Linked DNA regions of Homo sapiens: regions 2 and 3 are each linked to region 1. Evidence: fine-mapped QTL for protein levels in blood plasma. A gene starts in region 1. Each other region holds a variant in brackets. All regions are shown on one strand. Distances are from middle to middle.

The links. PIP is the posterior inclusion probability: the model's chance that the variant is causal. Protein levels are from antibody-based Olink assays in UK Biobank. Linkage for the fine-mapping came from a reference panel and not from the study's own genotypes, which makes the PIPs less certain.
Region 2: its variant is fine-mapped to the plasma level of the TNFRSF8 protein (UK Biobank, PIP above 0.99). The variant lies in the coding sequence of TNFRSF8. If it changes the protein, the assay may bind it differently, which can mimic a change of level.
Region 3: its variant is fine-mapped to the plasma level of the TNFRSF8 protein (UK Biobank, PIP above 0.99).

The regions. Positions count from the first base shown.
Region 1 is chr1:12,062,502-12,065,259 of GRCh38, forward strand. TNFRSF8 (TNF receptor superfamily member 8) reads left to right here and starts at 802. Exons shown (of 15, transcript NM_001243.5): 1 at 802-1,160. The coding sequence starts at 1,098. RefSeq lists silencers at 245-477, 1,065-1,194.
Region 2 is chr1:12,114,095-12,116,852 of GRCh38, forward strand. It overlaps TNFRSF8 (TNF receptor superfamily member 8), which reads left to right. Exons shown (of 15, transcript NM_001243.5): 8 at 1,483-1,635. Among named protein-coding and RNA genes, the nearest start is that of MIR7846, 51 kb to the right of the region's middle. The variant G/A (reference allele first, on the strand shown) is at 1,507.
Region 3 is chr1:12,037,754-12,040,511 of GRCh38, forward strand. No RefSeq gene overlaps it. Among named protein-coding and RNA genes, the nearest start is that of MIR6729, 10 kb to the left of the region's middle. RefSeq lists a cis regulatory region at 496-1,618 and an enhancer at 1,401-1,900. The variant A/G (reference allele first, on the strand shown) is at 1,535.

The DNA.
Region 1 (2,758 bases):
TCCATCCATCCATCCATCCATCCACTTATGCATCCATCCATCCATCCATCCATCCATCCATCCACCTATGCATCCATCCATCCATCCATCTATGCATCCATCCATCCACCCATCCACCCACCCATTTACCCACTCACCTGCTGCTCACCCATCCATCCATCCATCCATCCATCCACTTATGCATCCATCCATCCATCCATCCATCCATCCACTTATGCATCCATCCATCCATCCATCCATCCATCCATCCATCCATCCATCCACCTATGCATCCATCCATCCATCCATCCATCCATCCATCCATCCATCCATCCACTTATGCATCCATCCATCCATCCATCCATCCATCCATCCATCCATCCATCCACCTATGCATCCATCCATCCATCCATCCATCCACCAATTTATCATCCACTCACTGATTCATTTTACAGCAAATGCTTATGAATGGGGATGGGTGGGTGATGGTTGCTTTTTCTGCAGTCTCCCTAGGCCAGTTGTCCCTTCCAAAGAATCTCAAGGGCATGGGAGAAGGTCCTGGCTGATCGTGTCAGGGACAGGAAACTACTCACATTTCACCGTTTCTTGGGGCAGGAGTGGAGGTGGGGGCATTGGAACCCCCTTGGGGCCTCCTAATATCCTGTGAGTCCCCACCTCCAGGGCCAGAAGCTGCCTGCCTCCGCTCCCCGCAGCCCAGGTGCGGCGGGCAGCACACTCCCTAGAGCCAGGACCACTAGTTCCGTCAAATCCGGGGCGGGCCATTCAAACAGCTAAGGGAGGCGTCTCCTAGTGTGCCTTTTCCTGAGTCATCTCTGCACGTGTTTGCCCCCTTTTTTCTTCGCTGCTTGTAGCTAAGTGTTCCTGGAACCAATTTGATACGGGAGAACTAAGGCTGAAACCTCGGAGGAACAACCACTTTTGAAGTGACTTCGCGGCGTGCGTTGGGTGCGGACTAGGTGGCCGCGGCGGGAGTGTGCTGGAGCCTGAAGTCCACGCGCGCGGCTGAGAACCGCCGGGACCGCACGTGGGCGCCGCGCGCTTCCCCCGCTTCCCAGGTGGGCGCCGGCCGCCAGGCCACCTCACGTCCGGCCCCGGGGATGCGCGTCCTCCTCGCCGCGCTGGGACTGCTGTTCCTGGGGGCGCTACGAGCCTTCCCACAGGTAAGCGGGTGACGGGCGCCTGGGGAGGTGCCGGCGGTCCAGAGCCCGGACAGTGTGGGGTGCGTGGGACGCAAGGGAGGACACTCCTCACCCCGTTCCCTGCCCAGCTGGAGTGAGGGGGCGCGGGTGACAAGCAGGAACACCGGAATATGCTAGCACCCACAGGTGGGAGGCTGGCTGAAGGGCTAGTGGTGGGGGGCGCCTCCTTCTCACCCCGCGATGGCTGGGACTGATTCATTCATTCAGTGTGAATTGGACTGAGAGCACTGCCATACGCGGGAGGCGCTCTTTAGCCCGCCTACCTGCGGGCCCGTCGGGGTCCTGGGCAGATCAGGTGAGGCCGTGGGAGTAGTGGGCAGGCCAGATGGGGCCTCCCTTAGCCATGGGAGGTTGGTCGTCCGCGCTCTACCCTGTTGTGTGCGCGGTCCCGTTTGCCCCCTTCCTAAGCTGGCCACTGGCTGGAGGGTCAAGGAAAGGAGGGAGAGTTGGCTGTGGGTGAGAGTGGGGTGAGGGTGCAGGACCACCGGGATTAGCTTCCCCAATCCGCGTCCGGCAAAGCAACGCTGTGGATTGAATTCGCTGGAGCACGTGGTGGGCATTTGCCCCTGGAAGAAGGTCAGTGGTGGGGCTGAAGTCTATGGTGGGTTGCCTCAGAATTGAGTTTGGGGACTGCTTTAGGAAAACTGAGCACTTACCAGTGGCCAGCGCCAAATTAATCACTGTGGGGAGAATGCAAAGTAACCAGGCGTGTTTCACGGAGCCCAGGGGCTGCTGGAGAGAGAGGCCCTCAGCTGACCCAGGACCCCGGTGGACCCCTGCATAGAACCATAGTAGGTGCGAGTGGATGCCTGCTGAATGATACAGAGGGAAAGGAAGGAGCAGGCTGTTAGTCCAGCGGTGGGTCACGGTGGGGGAGAGGGAAGACCCAGTTCCCCTTTAATCCTACAGGAAGAGAGGACTCCATGCTATGGATCAATTCTAGTCATCTGAACCTTAGGCAGTGGGAGGAGAGTGGCAGAGTGGGCTTTAGGCAGGAGGGAGGAACTATGCAGCAAAGGAGGAACTATGCCCTCTTCCATTTCCAATGGGCAATGTGAGGTATTCCCCCTTTCCCCCCAAGAGGGCAGAGGGGACAAAGCCCTGGCTAGAGACACCCTGTCCCAGCTCTGCAAGCCCTCACCTGGGGGAAGGTAAGAGTTTGGAGTGCCAAGGTCTTGGGGAGATGAAGGGAAGGAAGAGATGTGAGAGGTGCTTGGGGGGCTTTGCTGGTTTGGTTTGGCAGCTGAAGCTCATGTGCTTCCTTTCTGTAGAGTGAAGCCCCCTCCACTTTTTTTAATGTTAGAGACAGGGTCTCACTCTGTTGTCCAGGCTGGAGTGCGATCATAACTCACTACAGCCTGAACTCTCATACCAAACCTTTTTTTTTTTTTTTTTTTTTTGAGACTGAGTCTCACTCTTGTTGCCCATGCTGGAGTGCAATGCTCGATCTCGGCTCACTGCAACCTCTGCCTCCCGGATTCAAGTGATTCTCCTGCCTCAGCCTCCCAGGTAGCTGGGATTACAGGCATGTGCCACCACACCCGGCTAATTTTTGTATT
Region 2 (2,758 bases), 52 kb after region 1:
ATTAGTAGCTAAAGGCATGAGCTCTAGAACCCGAGTGCCGGGTTCAGATCCCGCCTCTCCCACTTGATAGCCTATAACCTCAAGCAGGTTTCCTAACCTCTCTGTGCCTCAGTTTCCTCTGCTGCAAAATGGGCATAGTATTATCTATCTCAGAGAACCATGTGAGAATTGAATACATGATTGTAGGTTAATCTGGGTAGAGTGCTGAGACTACTGTCTCACACATACTCAGTTATCTTAAGAGCTATAATAATAATGATAATAGCTGCCATTGTCCCAAATGGTTTCATTCATTGCTGAGCTCACACACACCCTTTGCACAAATTCCCCAAATCCTGCCCAGTTCCCTTGCTCTGGATGTTGTAAGAAGAGACTGTCCAGCCCTTATCATTATCATGCTGGGTCTCTAAGTATCCTGCTGATTGAGATCTACCCTCGCGGAGAGGTCCCATTTGCCTAATCTACTGATGCAGTCGTTCTGTATTTACCTCTAAGTGGAGCGTTGCAAAATATTCCCGAATACGTACAAATGCATTATTACACTTATTAAAAATAATACCTCTAACATGGTTTTTTTTTGCTTTTGGAGGAAAAAAAATCTTTTTTTTTTTTTTTTTTTTTTTTTTTTTAAATAGACAGAGTCTTGTTCTGTCGCCCAGGCTGGAGTGCAGTGGCACTATCTTGGCTCACTGCAACCTCTGCCTCCCAGGTTCAAGTGATTCTCCTGCCTCAGCCTCCTGAGTAGCTGGGATTACAGGCACGTGCCACCAGGCATGGCTAATTTTTGTATTTTTAGTAGAGACGGGGTTTCACCATGTTGGTCAGGCTGGACTTGAACTCCTGACCTTGTGATCTGCCTGCCTCGGCCTCCCAAAGTGCCGGGATTACAGTCGTGAGCCACCGTGTCTGGCCAAAAAATCTTTTTATTATTAAAAATTTCAAACATATTCAGATGTAGAGTGAGTCAGAGATGGCTGCGTACTATCACCCAGCTTTAAACGGTTATGGAGTCATGGCCAGTCTTGGCTCCTCTGCACCCATGCCCGCTCACCCCGTCCCCTGGAGGACTTTCTTTTAACAGCTTTAGGGAGAGATAGTGGGCATATGGTAAAGTGCATAGATTAAAGGATGCAATCTGATAAGTTTTAACAAATGCATGCAGCTGAGCAACCAGCCATCCCCCTCTAAAAGTTACCTCGGGTTGCTTGTCACCATTTCCCATCCCCTGCTTATGGTCACCATGCAATAGCTTGCATGTAAATGCGACATACAGAATACCCTCGCTTTTTGCCTGCCTTCTTTCACCCTGCAGAATTATTTTGAGCATGCTGGGAGAGCTGCTCAACGGCATAGTCAGACGAGCATTTATTTTCTTGTTGGATGACCCTTGGACAACTGCTTCTCTGTCTTCCTGGGGGCTCTCTGGACCCCCTGCCCTTGCCATACTGATCTTTCTCCGTGATCCTCATCTGTGTCCCTTAGATGACCTTGTGGAGAAGACGCCAT[G/A]TGCATGGAACTCCTCCCGCACCTGCGAATGTCGACCTGGCATGATCTGTGCCACATCAGCCACCAACTCCTGTGCCCGCTGTGTCCCCTACCCAATCTGTGCAGCAGAGACGGTCACCAAGCCCCAGGGTAAGCAGTTCCCACCCCAGGCCTCGACCACAGGGTGGAGTCTGTGCCCCCACTGTTGTGCCTCTCCCCACCAACAGCCAGGGGTGGAGGCAAATGACCTACACCCTCGGCTGTTCATTAGGTCAGGTTTGGGTTCTGGTTATCCTTTGAGTAGTCAGACTCAGTGAATGGAATGATAAAATCCAGTTTTAGCATTTTGGCAAGAGATTCTGTTGATTAAAAAAAAATTCTTCCTGAAATTATTGGGCTGGTAAAATCTTTATATTTTTGAGATGGAGTTTCGCTCATGTTGCCCAGGCTGGAGTACAATGGCTCAATCTCGGCTCACCGCAACCTGCACCTCCTGGGTTCAAGCAATTCTCCTGCCTCAGCCTTCTGAGTAGCTGGGGTTACAAGCATTCGCCACCACAGCCGGCTAATGTTGTATTTTTAGAAGAGATGCGGTTTCTCCATGTTGGTCAGGCTGGTCTCGAACTCCCGACCTCAGGTGATCCACCCACCTTGGCCTCTCAAAGTGCTGGGATTACAGGCCTGAGCCACCATGCCCAGCCCCGGGCTGGTAAAATCTTGACCTGTTTGCAAGGCTGTTTTATTGACTTAGAGAGATGAATATCAAGTTTCTGAAGAGATTTCTAACAGGACGGTTGGCTTTACCAGTGTGCAGGAAACTAAAACCCTGACAGTTTTTTGTTGTTGTTGTTTTTTGTTTTTTAAGGGCTTTGAGAGATTTTAACAAATCTCCAGGTGGTTTAAAACAGATGGAAGAGTGGTGACAAAACCAAGGGGAATGGCCAGGCGTGGTGGCTCACGCCTGTGATCCCAGCACTTTGGGAGGCTGAGGCAGGTGGATCACTTGAGGTCAGGAGTTCAAGACCAGCCTGACCAACATGGCAAAACCCCGTCTCTACTAAAAATACACAAATTAGCTGGGTGTGGTGGTGGGCACCGTAGTCCCAGCTACTCAGGAGGTTGAGGCAGGAGAATCGCTTGAACCCGGGAGGCATAGGTTGCAGTGAGCCGAGATTGCACCACTGAACTCCAGCCTGGGCAACAGGGCGAAACTCTGCCTAAAAAAGAAAAAAAACCAAGTGGAGGGAAGGTCACCCAATGTGACTCTGTGAGG
Region 3 (2,758 bases), 25 kb before region 1:
TAAACCGGCAGGCTCCCCCTGGCCTCTGGGTCTTTATCTACTCCATTGCCTCTGCCCAAAGCTCTCTTCCACCCAATGAACTCCTACTCAGTCCTCAGCTTCTATTTCAATTCCTCAGAGCCCTTCCCTGAGCCGACCGAACTGGCCAAGGCTCCTGGAGTTGGGTTCTGCAGCATCCCCATTGTAGACTTTGTGACACTTGACTGTAAGCTCCTTGAGAGCAGGAACCAAGCCTGTCCTGTCCTTGGCGCTATCCCCAGGGCCTAGTACAGCATGCGGCATATGATAGACGTTCAATAAATAAATGTTGAATGAACGAGGGAGTAAATGAGCTCCCAGGTCTTGGGAAGGTAGACCTGGCAGCCCTGAGACCCGAGGTTCCTGTTTCCTGGGATTCTAGCACTGGGGCTGAGCTGCTGCTGTTCTAGCTTGCGCTGGTTTCTGCACATCTGTTGCCCTAGGCCTCAGGCAGATTGTGGGGTCTCGGCTCAGCACCAGTCTCCCAGGGGAGTCTAGGACCCTAGGGTGGATGGTAGGGAGCGGCTGGGGACAGCTGAAACATCTTCATCTGGGAAACTCTACGTCCGCCATCCATTGGCAGCTGCAGGGCCCAGTCCCTTGGCGTGCAGATGGAAGTGTATGGAAATAACCCCACCTTCCCTCCCTCAGGCCACTTTTAACCTCCCAGGCAAGACAAGGACCTGTTGGCTACTGATTGCCACCCTCTGAGAGGGAGGCTGCAAAGGGGAATTCTCCCTGGAGGGGTTGGGTGACCCTTCCACTCCCACTTCATCATGAGGTGAAGCGTGCATGGCCCAGAAACACACACACAGCTGGATTTCCCCCCTCTGCCTTTGGAAAGTGGCATTCAGATGTTCTGAGAATGCACACTGGCTCAATGTAGACTTGGCTGTAGGTTTGCTGAACTTTTCAGCCCAATCTGTGGGAGGACATAGAGTGTAGCTCCGAACACCCGCCCTCGGTATTGCCACCCACTGACTGCGTGACGGCGGCCGTGTCACTTAGCCTTTCTGTATGTAGCTCAGTTTTGTCATCTGTACACGGGCGATAACTCCAAGAAGAGGTGAACCAGATCCGACCTGCAGAGACCCGGGCACGTGGTCTGACGGGGAGGGGAGCTATGAGAAATGATAAGACTGTCATCAGCTCTTCCATCATAAGATTGATGCCATCCTGTTGCCTGGAATGGAACCTGCCCCCTGAGTTTGCTCCAGCTCATGCCTTCCCCAGGACGATAAGAGAGAATGGAAGCAGGGCATGGAGTCCTTTGATCCAGTGGCCTTCACCCCCAGCTCCTGGAAGGGCTGTTGCTGGGAGCAGATGCCGGCAGCAGCCTTCTTGCCAGTTTCATTAGCATGGAGGCTCTGAGGACAGGGAGGGAGGAGGGATGTGGGTGGGCAGGACCCTCCCTGGGGCCAGTGCTGAGGCTGTGAGGGTGGATGGCTGAAGCCTTGCAGGAAGTTTTGAGAGGAAGCTGGGCCCACAGGATCGTGATGTGATCAGTTGGGGTGGC[A/G]TAAGAGTGCCTGATGATGGTTTGGGTGGCCTTTGGGGACATCCCCTGTCATGCCATCACCATGCTGAGCTCTGACCACACTCTCTTTGGCCCTCTTTATCTGTGGCTAAGAGTTGGCAACACAGCCTCTGAAACTCAGCAGAAACCCCTCTGCTTCCCCCAGCCCTGCCTCCTCTATCCCCCACCATTGTTGATGGGATACCAGAGGCACCCAGGTGTCCTGGGCCTCCAGCTCCCGAGGCAAGGAAGCCTTTCTTGGCCAGCCAGGACTCATGACATCTCAGCCAGTGGAGAAGGGGAGAGGGAGGGCTTTGAGAATTCCCCAGGCCTCAGATTTGGTGGGGGAACCCTTCCTGTCCACCAGGATTGAGGGTTACAGAACACCCCAGCCTCGAGGGAGAACTAGCTGCCCCCCATCCCATTCCCAGCAAATTCTGACAAACACCCCCTGACTCCCATGGTGGAAGTTTGCCAGGTGTCAACTAAAGAAAATAAAAAGCTGAAGAATTAGAGTTCGGGCTGGGTGTGGTAGCTCACACTTGTAATCCCAGTAATTTGGGAGGCTGAAGCCAGTGGATTGCCCGAGCCCAGGAGTTTAAGAGCAGCCTGGGCAACATGTAGAGATGAAACCCCATCTCTACTGAAAATACAAAAAATTAGCCAGGCATGGTGACATACATCTGTGGTTCCCAGCTACTTGGTAGGCTGAGGTGGGAGGATCACCTGAGCCCGGGGAAGTCTGAGACTGCAGTGCGTGGTGATCACAACACTGCACTCCAGCCTGAGCAACAGAGTGAGACCATGTCTAAAAATAAATAAATAAATAAAAATGCCGGGCGTGGTGGCTCAAGCCTGTAATCCCAGCACTTTGGGAGGCCAAGGTGGGCAGATCACTTGAGGTCAGGAGTTCGAGACCAGTCTGACCAACATTGAGAAACCCAGTCTCTACTAAAAATACAAAATTAGCCGGGCGTGGTGGCACATGCCTGTAATGTCAGCTACTCGGGAGGCTGCGGGAGGAGAATCGCTTGAACCCGGGAGGCAGAGGTTGCAGTGAGCTGAGATCACACCATTGCATTCCAGCCTGGGCAACAAGAGTGAAACTCCGTCTCAAAAACAAAAAACAAAAACTTTAGAGTTCTTTTTATTCAGAAGTTTTACCAGGACTATAGACCGAGCCTATTGCCTGAGAGCAGCCCTGTGGAGGGGTTCTATCAGCTGCTC